Linked DNA regions of Homo sapiens. The protein of the gene in region 1 interacts with the protein of each later gene in a pairwise test. Each region holds a gene or a part of one and is shown in the gene's direction. Other genes may lie near its edges.

Region 1 (3,653 bases):
CTCAGCTCCACCCTTCCACCAAATCCCTTTAGCAAAAACCGGGGTGTGCAGAAATGGAATGTCAGCACTGCCTTTCAGGAGCCTAACCCTTGGGCAGCTGTAGCAGAGGGCGCTGAAGCTAAACCAGGACTCTTGAGCGAGGGCGCGAGACAAGCTAGGGTTAACAGTGACCCTTGGGTTTCAGCAGAGGCAAACGAAAGTACACTCTGGAGAAAGTCTCATTCAGGCCTGAAGAATCCCACAGATTAAGGAAAATTAAATATGAATTCATAATCAAGAATGACAACGTAAACAGCAGATGTGGACTGAAGATGACCCACTGTGCCCCGACTTGAAAGAGAACCAAGTAGAACTGCTCTCAGTGAGAACTGTAGATATTTTAAAGCAAAAACTTACAGACAGGTTTTGTATCAGATTAGATACAGTTAATGAGAATGGGTACAGAACCAAGTAGAACTGCTCTCAGTGAAAACTGTAGATATTTTAAAGCAAAACCGTATGGATGGATTTTGTATCAGATTAGACACAGTTAATGAGAGAATGGGTACACCAGACATCAATGTGAAGAAATCATCCAGTGACAGTAAAGGAGGTGAAAAATGTGAAATAGGCGTGAAAAGATGTAAGGACAGAATGAGAACCTTCATAAAATAGGGCTTTGGCCCCCATCCCCAAAGGAGAGAACAGGAGAAGCCTCCTGGGAAGAGAGGATGCCTGAGGACCTCCTGAACTGATGAAGGCACGATTTTTCAGATACAGGAAGCACATGTAGACCAAGCAGAGCGAATGCACAGAAATCCACACCTAGGCAGGCCCTGGGGCATCACAGACCATCAGAGACAAGGAGGAGCCGGGCGCGGTGGCTCACGCCTCTAATCCCAGCATTCCAGGAAGCTGAGGCAGGAGGATCCCCTGAGGTCAGGAGTTTGAGACCAGCCTGGCCAACATGGTGAAACCCCATCTCTACTAAAAATATAAAAATTAGCTGGGCCTGGTGGCACATGTCTAATCCCAGCTACTGGGGTGGCTGAGGCAGGGGAATCATTTGAACCTGGTCGGTGGAGGTTGCAGTGAGCCGAGACTGCATCACTGCACTCCAGCCTGGGTGACAGAGTGAGACTCTGTCTCAAAAAAAAAAAAAAAAAAAAAAAGATAAGGAAGTCTTCGAATCCCCGGAGAGGAAAGCTGGAGAACCACGCTGGATGGTCAGCAGTGAGGCCGACAGCAGATTTCTTACGGCAGGCAGCAGTGGCGGGAGAAGGTGGAAGATCCTCAATGTGCTGGAAAATCACCAACCTAGCACCCTGTGTTGTTCAAGAGTACAAATAAAATAAAAAGGTTTTGGTAAACAAAAAAATGAGAGCTTTTACTGCCCATAGATCTTCACTTCAATATTTTTTAAGGATGTGTTTCAGTAAGAACAAAAATTATAAAAGTAGGGTATAATTTTCAAGAAAGAATGGTAGCCAAAGAAATTAGGAGATGGATGAATCTAAACCGTATGTAAAATAAAAACAGTGCTCAGCCGGGCGCAGTGGGTCACGCCTGTAATCCCAGCACTTTGGGAGGCCAAGGTGGGCGGATCACCTGAGGTCAGGAGTTCAAGACCAGCCTGGTCAACATGGTGAAACCCCATCTCTACTAAAAATACAAAAATTAGCCTGGCATGGTGGTGGGCACCTGTGATCCCAGCTCCTCAGGAGGCAGAGGCAGGAGAATCGCTTGACCCTGGGAGGTGGAGGTTGCAGTGAGGTGAGACTGCACCACGCTCAGCTAATTTTTTGTTTTGTATTTTTATTAGAGATGGGGTTTCACCATGTTGCCCAGACTGGTCTCAAACTCCTGACCTCAGGTGATCCGCCCACCTCGGCCTCCCAAAGTGCTGGGATTACAGGCGGGAGCGCCCAGCCCAGGTTCAGATTTTAATGGTAACTTTGTTAAGTATAGGGTAGGAAAAAAGAGAGATCAAACATAGCTTCCAAAGTATTAGAAAAAGATAAAGAAAAAAAGGTAAATCTCTTTTGTTAATGCAAGAAAGTAGAAAGAAAAGCATTAAAATAAGAAATATTGAGGTATACATTAAGATCAATATAAAATTCCCAGATACTTGGGATGACCACAAATACACAAGAAAAGCACTTCAGTAAGAACAGAAATAATCGGCCTCTCCATCTGCTGGGCTTGCGTGGGTATGTGAATTCCGTCTGTGACTTGTTGGATTTGGGATGTTCTCCACTTAGATTTATTTCCATGAATATGTTTGTGGGAGCCTTTCTGCAGTCAGAGGTATGTGGAAGCCTTTGCCAGTTCAGGGGCGCATGGTGAGAGCAGACCTCACAGTGGGTTTGTTTATGTTTGTTTGTTTTTGAGACAGGGTCTTGCTCTGTCGCCCAGGCTGGAGTGCAGTGGTGTGATCTTGGCTCACTGCAATCTCTGCCTCCTGGGCTCAAGCAGTCCTCCTACCTCAGCCTCCTTGAGTAGCTGAGACCACAGGTGTGCACCATCATGCCCAGCTAATTTTTGTATTTTTTGTAGAGACAGGGTTTTGCCATGTTGCCCAGACTGGTCTCCAACTCCTAGGCTCATGTGATCCTCCTGCCTCAGCCTGCTGGGCTGCTGGGATTACAGGCTGAGCCACCGCACCAGCCACAGTGTTTTCTGATGACCCTGAACCACGGTTTTATTTTCAATTCTTCATTCCTGTTCTCATTCCTTAATGCTGGGTGCCTTCTTGCTGCCCATTTTGAACTCACTGCCAGTGTGTCTCTGCTGTCATCTGATGTGCAGAGCTATAGGTGCTGCGGCGAAGGGTGCAGGTTTGGAGCCGTTTAAACAACCTGGCCCAGCCTCCTCACTCCCTGCTGACCTTGGTCAAGGCTTCAGTCTCTAAACCTCAGCTTTCTCATCTGCAGAGCACAGACAAAACCACCTGCCTTTGAGCTGTCTTATAAAGCCTAAATCAATGCGCACAGCAGGTACACAGCAATGCTTGATAAATTGTTACTATTATTGGGTGAATTTTAGGTTTTTTTTGTTGTTGTTGTTGTTTTGAGACAGAGTCTCTCTGTTGTCCTGGCTGGAGCACAGCAGTGCGATCTTGGCTCACTGCAACCTCCATCTTCTGAGGTTCAAGTGATTCTCGTGCCCCAGCCTCCCAAGTAGCTGGGATTACAGGTGCCTGCCACCACATCCAGCTAATTTTTTTTATTTTTAAGTAGAGATGGGCTTTTGCCATGCTTCCCCAGCTGGTCTTGAACTCCTGGCCTCAAGTGATCCTCCTGTCTCGGCCTCCCAAAGTGCTGGGATTACAGGCTTGAGCCACCGCACCCGTCCAGAATTTTAGATTTTTTTAAATCCGTGGTTGAAAAATAGGCTATGGCTGGCTTACTCATTGTGCTTTAGGGAAGCATGTATTTGAGTGAAGGAAATGATAAAAGGAATTTCATATCGGGCCCAGGCGCCGCCCACCCTGCAAGACAGTTTACAGATGCCTGCCCTGACAGCTGTCTGCAGTTAGCCAGCGTCAGCCGAGGGGTCCTGAGATCCGCTGAAGGCTGCCTTTGCATGCCGACAGCAAGGGAAAAGTGCCACATGTCCCTGGGCTTGCCACAGGTGACCTTTGGATGGGACCATTCTCCAGACAGCGCAGCTCG
Region 2 (3,653 bases), on another chromosome or scaffold:
TAGAGTACACCAGTGGCTTTTTTCCCCTCTTATTTGCCCACTGCTCTCATGTTTTTTTCATAGCTGTTTCAAAAATATTTCTTGATAATTATGGCATGCTCTTTTTTAGTCAATCAAGTAAGAAACTTTTGAAGAGACATATAGTTAACAGTTTGTGGGAAGGGAGTTCTGAAAGGAGGCATTTGGGGTGACTTTTTAAGTAGGTTTGCCTGACATTGCTCTACTTTGTGAAATGACCAACTTAAATTAATGTATACTTTTAGCCCCCGAACCTAGTATTCCTTATTACTTGTAATTCAAAGGAATTGTGCTGTTTTACTTTGCATGCTTTCTTTAATTACAAAATTGTCTACAGTATCTTATATATAGTTGTTATAATTTTTACATATTTTTTTCCATCTTGAAAATGATTTTGTTTTCATAGTAGTGTTTAGCATTCAGTATTTTACTGTAATAAAGTGTGATATGCTATATTTTTGGTTTCTTTTTTCTTCCCTGTTTTACTGGTTCAATAAACAGTCCAGTAGTAAGCAATACTTTGTAAAGATACTGAAATAGTTTTGTGCCTATGTGTTTTGTCTCTTCTTTCTTTAATGCTGCTGTAGTCATTTCCTGGAAGGATATTTTCCGTTAACAGCTTTGTCTTGGAAACAACTAACATGCAGTAGGTTTCCCCCTCCCCCCATCTTTTGGTAAGGACTATAATACTGAAATTTTGAAAATTATTACTACATTGAAAATCAGCTAAACTGCAATCTCAAAACATAAATTACACTTAATCATTGGTGCTTATGCTTTGGCTAATGCTAATTTAAATAGACTTCTGCATGTATACTTCAAAGTATTATAAATACATTTCTGCTTTATAAAACTGATCAAATGAGAAGTGATCATTGAGTAGTTAACCACTTCCTATCTGGTATTACAGTTAATTTATGTGCTCAACAACAACAAAATTGGCTCCCAGATAGCTACTTGAAGTAACCTATAGTCATAACTGCCAGGGAGAATATTGTCACAAGTTGAATCTGGAAAGGCATTGTAAGGCCAGTGTACTAAGATTTTGATGACTCTACAAATTATATTTTCTGAACTTGTGGATACACGTTTCACTATGATTAGGTGGTTTTTGCTAAATTGGGCAATAAAAGTTAAAGAACCATGATTTCCAAAGACATAAAACAGCCTCATGTTAAGAATAAGCCTTTTCCTCCTTTATGGAAGAGAGATTGAAAATTGTGCAGATGGTATAATGAAAATTCTCTGTAAAATCTAGGTAGTAAAGTGGTTAACGTATAATTTGATTTTTGTTGTGTAACAATTTGTGATTCAAAAACTTTGTATTTTGACAGATGATCTTCCAAAACCCAAGACTACTGAAGTAATTAGGAAAGGCTCAATTACTGAATACACAGCAGCAGAGGAAAAAGAAGATGGACGACGCTGGCGTATGTTCAGGATTGGAGAACAGGACCACAGGGTTGATATGAAGGCAATTGAACCCTATAAAAAAGTTATCAGCCATGGGGGTAAGAGTTACTGAGGATTTTTCAGATTGTTTAATGCAATATCAGAATTCTTTTTTTTTTGGAAGGATATCTGTTTATTAAGAGTAAATAAGCCCTGTACAGAACACAGGCGCTAGGTTGAGAGACTCGTCTTTTGTAGGACATTTCTTCCTGCTAACCAGTTCCTGGAGGGCTTGTTTTTTTTGTAACTTTACACAAGGGGCACTAATGGAAAATATAGCTTTCTCAAGACATCTGATGTCAGTTTCCCATTGTTTTGCTTCACAAACATCAACAAAGTAAACCTGAACATGCTTAGCAATTTCCCAATGTTCTTTGCTGACATTACTTTTGACATACTGTGTCAAAATTCTTAAGGTCTCCCCTCCTTTGGTAAAGTAGGCAAAACCTTACAAGGAAAACACTATAATACGTGGAAATATACTGAGTTAGATTTCCAGTCACCTGCTCTATGGCTCTGAGATGCACTATATCCATAATGGTTCCTAGGACTGTGTCCACCTGATGGTTTGGAGTACGGAAAACCAACCCTTATGGCTTAAGAGTCATCTCCCATGGAAGACGATGCTGGCCTTCTGAACGCTGGGGCTCATGGGCTTGTTGATGTGGCTTTCTGGTGTGCCAGGATCCCCTGGCAGCTCCTGTATACTTCAGTCAAGCAGTCCAGCCGGGGCTTGGCACTCTGGAAGACGGGTACTACTTGGGATATCCCATGTGGTTCCACTGGATCCTTCAATAAGATGCAGAGGTAGTAAATCACCTTCTGCATGTAAATAGCCTCATTGATGACAATATCCTTGACCTTGCCCATTTCTATGAAGGTAGTGCTTTCTTAGCCTGAAGCATAAGATGAAGTCATCTGAATGCCAAGGGAATCAATGATTAACAGTCTCCTGATCAATCTTCACAAAATGGAGATAACCAAGCAGACCTAAGAGGGTGATGAAGATGGCAGCAGAGAGGATCATGCTGTTCTCGCAGAGGGTGAAGAGTCCGTAGGCTGCCAGCCACACCGTGCAGGTGACAGCGGTGAGCGAACGCAGCGAGAGCCCAGGGCAGCTGAGGCAGAATTCCCGGCAGGAAGGGAAGTAGTAGCGGCGCTGCAGGGCCAGGCGGCCACCGCAGATATCCGAAAAGCTCCGCTCATCCTCCATGACACCCCAACTCTGCCGCCCGCACCGCACCGCGCGGCACTCCACTGCGCTCGCCTGCCCTAGCCGTTTCATGCAATATCAGAATTCTAAATACTTTTAGAAACTCTGCCTAGAGATATTATGTAATTTTGAAAGAATAATAAGCATTTCTCATTCATTTTAGAAACATGACAGGTTTAAAGTAAAAGAATAAAAGTACCATTTAAAAATGATTATATGCATACAGTAAGTTGAAAAAGTACAAAAGAATTTGTAGTGAAAACTGTCAGGTTGGGCACGGTGGCTCAGGTTTGTAATCCCAGCAATTTGGGAGGCTGAGGCAGGAGGATTACTTGAGCCCAGGAGTTCAGGACCAGCTTGGGCAACATAGACCTCGTCTCCACAAAAAAATAAAAAAAATAAAAAAATAAATAAAATTAGCCAGGAGTGGTGGCATATGCCTGTAGTCCCAGCTACTTAGGAGGCTGGGGTGGGAGGAGAGAGAGCTTGAGCTTGGGAAGATGAGGCTTCAGTGGCCGTGATCATCCCACTGCACTCTAGTTTTTTGTTTTGTTTTGGTTTTTGACCCTGTCTCAAAATTAAAAAATTTTTTAAACTGTCTCTAGGCTACCCAAAACTGGGACTGAACAGTCTCCCTAATTTATAAACAGTGAAATGCTCTGATCTTAAGTGTGCAGTTCAATGAGTTTTGACAAATGCCTATATAACCATATATACCCATATATATAAAACCCATACCCCTAAAAATGTAGAACATTTTCATTGTCCCAGAAGAATTATTTAGTACCCCTGTGCAATGAATACTCAGCTTCGGTAGCCACTGTCATATCTACCCCCTGATTAGTTTTGCCTCTTCTAGAATTTCATATATAGTAACTAAAATCATCCTATGCACTCTTTTGTTTACTTTTCAGCATGAAGTTTTTGAGATTCATCCATGTTGTTGCACGTATCCACAGTACATTCCTTC
Region 3 (3,653 bases), on another chromosome or scaffold:
CAGTCCTCTCACCTCAGCCTCCTGAGTAGCTGGGACAACAGATATGTGCCACCATGCCTGGCTTTTTTTTTTTTTTTTTTTTAATTTATTTTTTGTAGAGATGAAGTCTTCCTGTTTCCCAAGCTGGTCTCAAACTCCTGGGCTCAAATGATCCTCCTGTCTCAGCCTCCCAGTGCTGGGATTATAGGTTAGAGCCATGATGCTTGGCCTGACAACTTTTTTCTACCTTATTTGGCAAAGAGATATATTGACCAGAAAAAGATACTGGCAGAGAGATGTCATAATCTGAAAAATAAAAGAGAATCAAGTATTTACTCCAAGAGATCATTTCCTTCTAGAAAAGGGAGGTGTGTCGCCGGGCACGGTGGCTCACACCTGTAATCCCAGCACTTTGGGAGGCTGACGTGGGCGGATCACAAGGTCAAGAGATCAAGACCATCCTGGCCAACATGGTGAAATCCTGTCTCTATAAAAATATAAAAGTTAGCTGGGCATGGTGGCAGGCGCCTGTAGTCCCAGCTACTCAGGAGGCTGAGGCAGGAGAATCGCTTGAACCTGGGAGGCGGAGGTTGCAGTGAGCTGAGATCGTGCCACTGCACTCCAGCCTGGCGACAGACTGCACTCCAGCCTGGCGACAGAGCGAGACTCCATTTCCAAAAAAAAAAAAAGGAGGTGTATGTTAGCTGTTTGCGTTGCTGTAAAGGAATACCTGAGAATACCTGAGACTGGGGAATTTATCAAGAAAAGTGGTTCTTTAGGCTGTACAGGAAGCTTAGCACCAGCATCTGTTTCTGGTGAGGGCCTCAGAAAGCTTGCAATCAGGACAGAAGGCGAAGGGGAAGCAGCTTATCACGTGTTGGGGAGGGAGCAAGAGAGAGAGGGGAGGAGGTGCCAGGCTCCTTTTAGCAATGAGATCTTGGCCGCGTGCGGTGGATCACTTAAGGTCAGCAGTTGGAGACCAGCGTGGCCAACATAGTGAAACCCCATCTCTACTAAAAATACAAAAATTAGCCGGGTGTGATGGTGCATACCTGTAGTCCTAGCTACCTGGGAGGCTGAGACAGGAGAATTGTTTGAAACTGGGAGGCGCCACTGCACTCCACCCTGGGTGACAGAGTGAGACTCTGTCTCAAAAACAAACAATAAACAAAACCAATCAGATCTTGTGGTAACTAATGGAGCGAGGACTCACTCATTACTGTGAGAAGGACACCAAACAATTGAGAAGAGATCAGCCCCCATGACCCAAACAGCTGCCACTAGACCCCACCTCCAACACTGGGGGTCACATTTCAACATGAGATTTGGAGGAGACAGATATCCAAATGCTATCTGCCTTAAAAACAAATTGGATAGTTTGGTTTTCTATTCTGTGGAAGAATTTGTGTAAGATTGGTAATACAGTTCTAGAACTTTATAGTTCTTGGCCTTTTGGAGATTAATTCTAGAACAGCGTAGGTTTTCTGTTTGATTTTTAGTTCTGTCAGTTTCAGTAAGTTGTGTTTTGTTGGGAATTTGCCCATTTTATCTAAAATGTCAAATTAGTTGGCATAAAGCTGTGAATAATGACCTCGTAGGCTCTTTTCACCTTCTGTAGGGATTCTTGGTGTGCATTTCCTTTTTTTTTTTTTTGAGACGGAGTTTCACTGTTGTTGCCCAGGCTGGAGTGCAATGGTGTGATCTTGGCTCACTACAGCCTCTGCCTGCCGGGTTCAAGCGATTCTCCTGCCTCAGCCTCCCATGTAGCTGGGATTACAGGCTTGTGCCACCATGCCCGGATAATTTTGTATTTTTAGTAGAGATGGGGTTGCACCATGTTGGCCAGGCTGGTCTTGAACTCCTGACCTCAGGCGATCCACCTGCCTTGGCCTCCCAAAGTGCTGGAATTACAGGCGTGAGCCACTGCGCCTGGCCCTTTTTTTTTTTTTTTTTAAGAGGTGAGGCCTCACTCTGTCATCCAGGCTGGAGTGCGGTGGCGCACAATCATAGCTTGCTGTAACCTTAAACTCCTGGGTTCAAATGATCCTCCTGCCTCAGCCTCCCTAGTAGCAAGGACTATAGGCACGTGGCACTATGCCTGGCTAGTTTTTAAATTTTTTTGTAGAGATTGGGTCTCACTGTGTTGTCCAGGCTTGTCTTGAACTCCTGGCCTCAAGTAATCCTCCAGCCTCAGCCTCTCAGAGTGCTGGGATTATAGGCATGAGCCACCATGCCTGGCTGGTACTCTGCATTGATAACTTGTGCTTTGTCTTTCAAAAAATATTTAATTTTGTAGGATCTTCTGGATAAATATTCACAAATATTGCACGTGTTGATAATTTTATATCTTATTTTGATGTTAAATGAACTAGAATATCCAGGAAAGTATTCAATGGTAATGGTAAAAGTGCATACAACCTCCTCTACGTAACAGGAATACATTAATTTTTTCTTACTGTTAGGTATCCTTTTGGCTGTATACACGTAAACATGCTTTATTACCCTATGGAAGCATTTTTGAAATTTCTCAGTTTCAGCTGGACGCGGTGGCTTACGCCTATAATCCCAGCACTTTTGGAGGCTGAGGCAGGCGGATCACGAGGTCAGGAGATTGAGACCATCCTGGCTGACGCGGTGAAACCCTGTCTCTACTAAAAATACAAAAAATTAGCCAGGCGTGGTGGTGGGCGCCTGTAGTCCCAGCTACTTGGGAGGCTGAGGCAGGAGAATGGCGTGAATCTGGGAGGTGGACCACGCTTGCAGTGAGCAGAGATCGTGCCACTGCACTCCAGCCTGGGCGACAGAGCGAGACTCTTTCTCAAAAAAAAAAAAGAAATTTCTCAGTTTCTTACATGTGTTCTCTCTTCCCCTTTTCCTCTTCCCTTCCTCCAGTTCAGCATGTCATAGAACTTTCACAAGTGGTTATGAAATCTTAGATATGCTATGGAGAAAGAGGTTATGGCATAGCAAGAGCATTGTTCTGTGAGAATTGGAGAGAAATCTATTCTTAATGTGTATTTATTTATTTATTTTTGAGACAAGAGTCTTACTGTTTCATCCAGGCTGGAGTGCAGTGGTGTGATTATGGCTCAGTGCACCCGGGAACTCCAGGGCTCAAGTGATCTTCCTGCCTCAGCCTCCTGGTAGCTGGGACTACACGTACGTCCCATCATGCCTGGCTAATTTTTAAATTTTTATTTGTAGAGATGTGCTCTTGCTTTGTTGTCCAGGCTGGTCTCGAACTCCTGGCTTCAAAGAATCCTCCTGCCTTGGCCTCCCAAAGCATTGGGATTGCAGGTGTGAGCCACTGTGCCCAGCATTAGTCTGACTTTTTTATAGTTAGCTTTGTATTTGCTTGTCTTTTTTAAACAACCTTATTCAGTTTAATTGACATAAAATAAACTGTGTGTTTGGAGTGCACAGTTTTGTGTTGTGACATATCTATACACCTGTGAAACCATTATCATAATCAAGATAGTAAACATATTCATCACCCTCAAATGTTTCTTTTTACCTCCCTCTACACCTCCATTTCCAGGCGATAATTTATCTACTCTGTCACTATATATTGGCTTGAATTTTCTTCCCCCTTTTTTTTTTTTTGAGATGGAGTTTCACTCTTGTTGCCCAGGCTGGAGTGCAATGGCGTGATAACGGCTCACCACAATCTCCGC

What was found.
Region 2: the proteins of AGPAT3 (region 1) and BNIP2 interact in binary tests that used the Homo sapiens proteins (3 or more experiments, as listed by UniProt).
Region 3: the proteins of AGPAT3 (region 1) and SLC71A2 interact in binary tests that used the Homo sapiens proteins (3 or more experiments, as listed by UniProt).

What each region holds. Positions count from the first base shown.
Region 1 is NC_000021.9:43,962,580-43,966,232, forward strand, and holds part of AGPAT3 (1-acyl-sn-glycerol-3-phosphate acyltransferase gamma), read left to right. Parts: intron 1-3,653. UniProt on the Homo sapiens protein: Converts 1-acyl-sn-glycerol-3-phosphate (lysophosphatidic acid or LPA) into 1,2-diacyl-sn-glycerol-3-phosphate (phosphatidic acid or PA) by incorporating an acyl moiety at the sn-2 position of the glycerol backbone.
Region 2 is NC_000015.10:59,675,787-59,679,439, reverse strand, and holds part of BNIP2 (BCL2/adenovirus E1B 19 kDa protein-interacting protein 2), read left to right. Parts: intron 1-1,352; coding exon 1,353-1,529; intron 1,530-3,653.
Region 3 is NC_000009.12:94,377,472-94,381,124, forward strand, and holds part of SLC71A2 (hippocampus abundant transcript-like protein 1), read left to right. Parts: intron 1-3,653.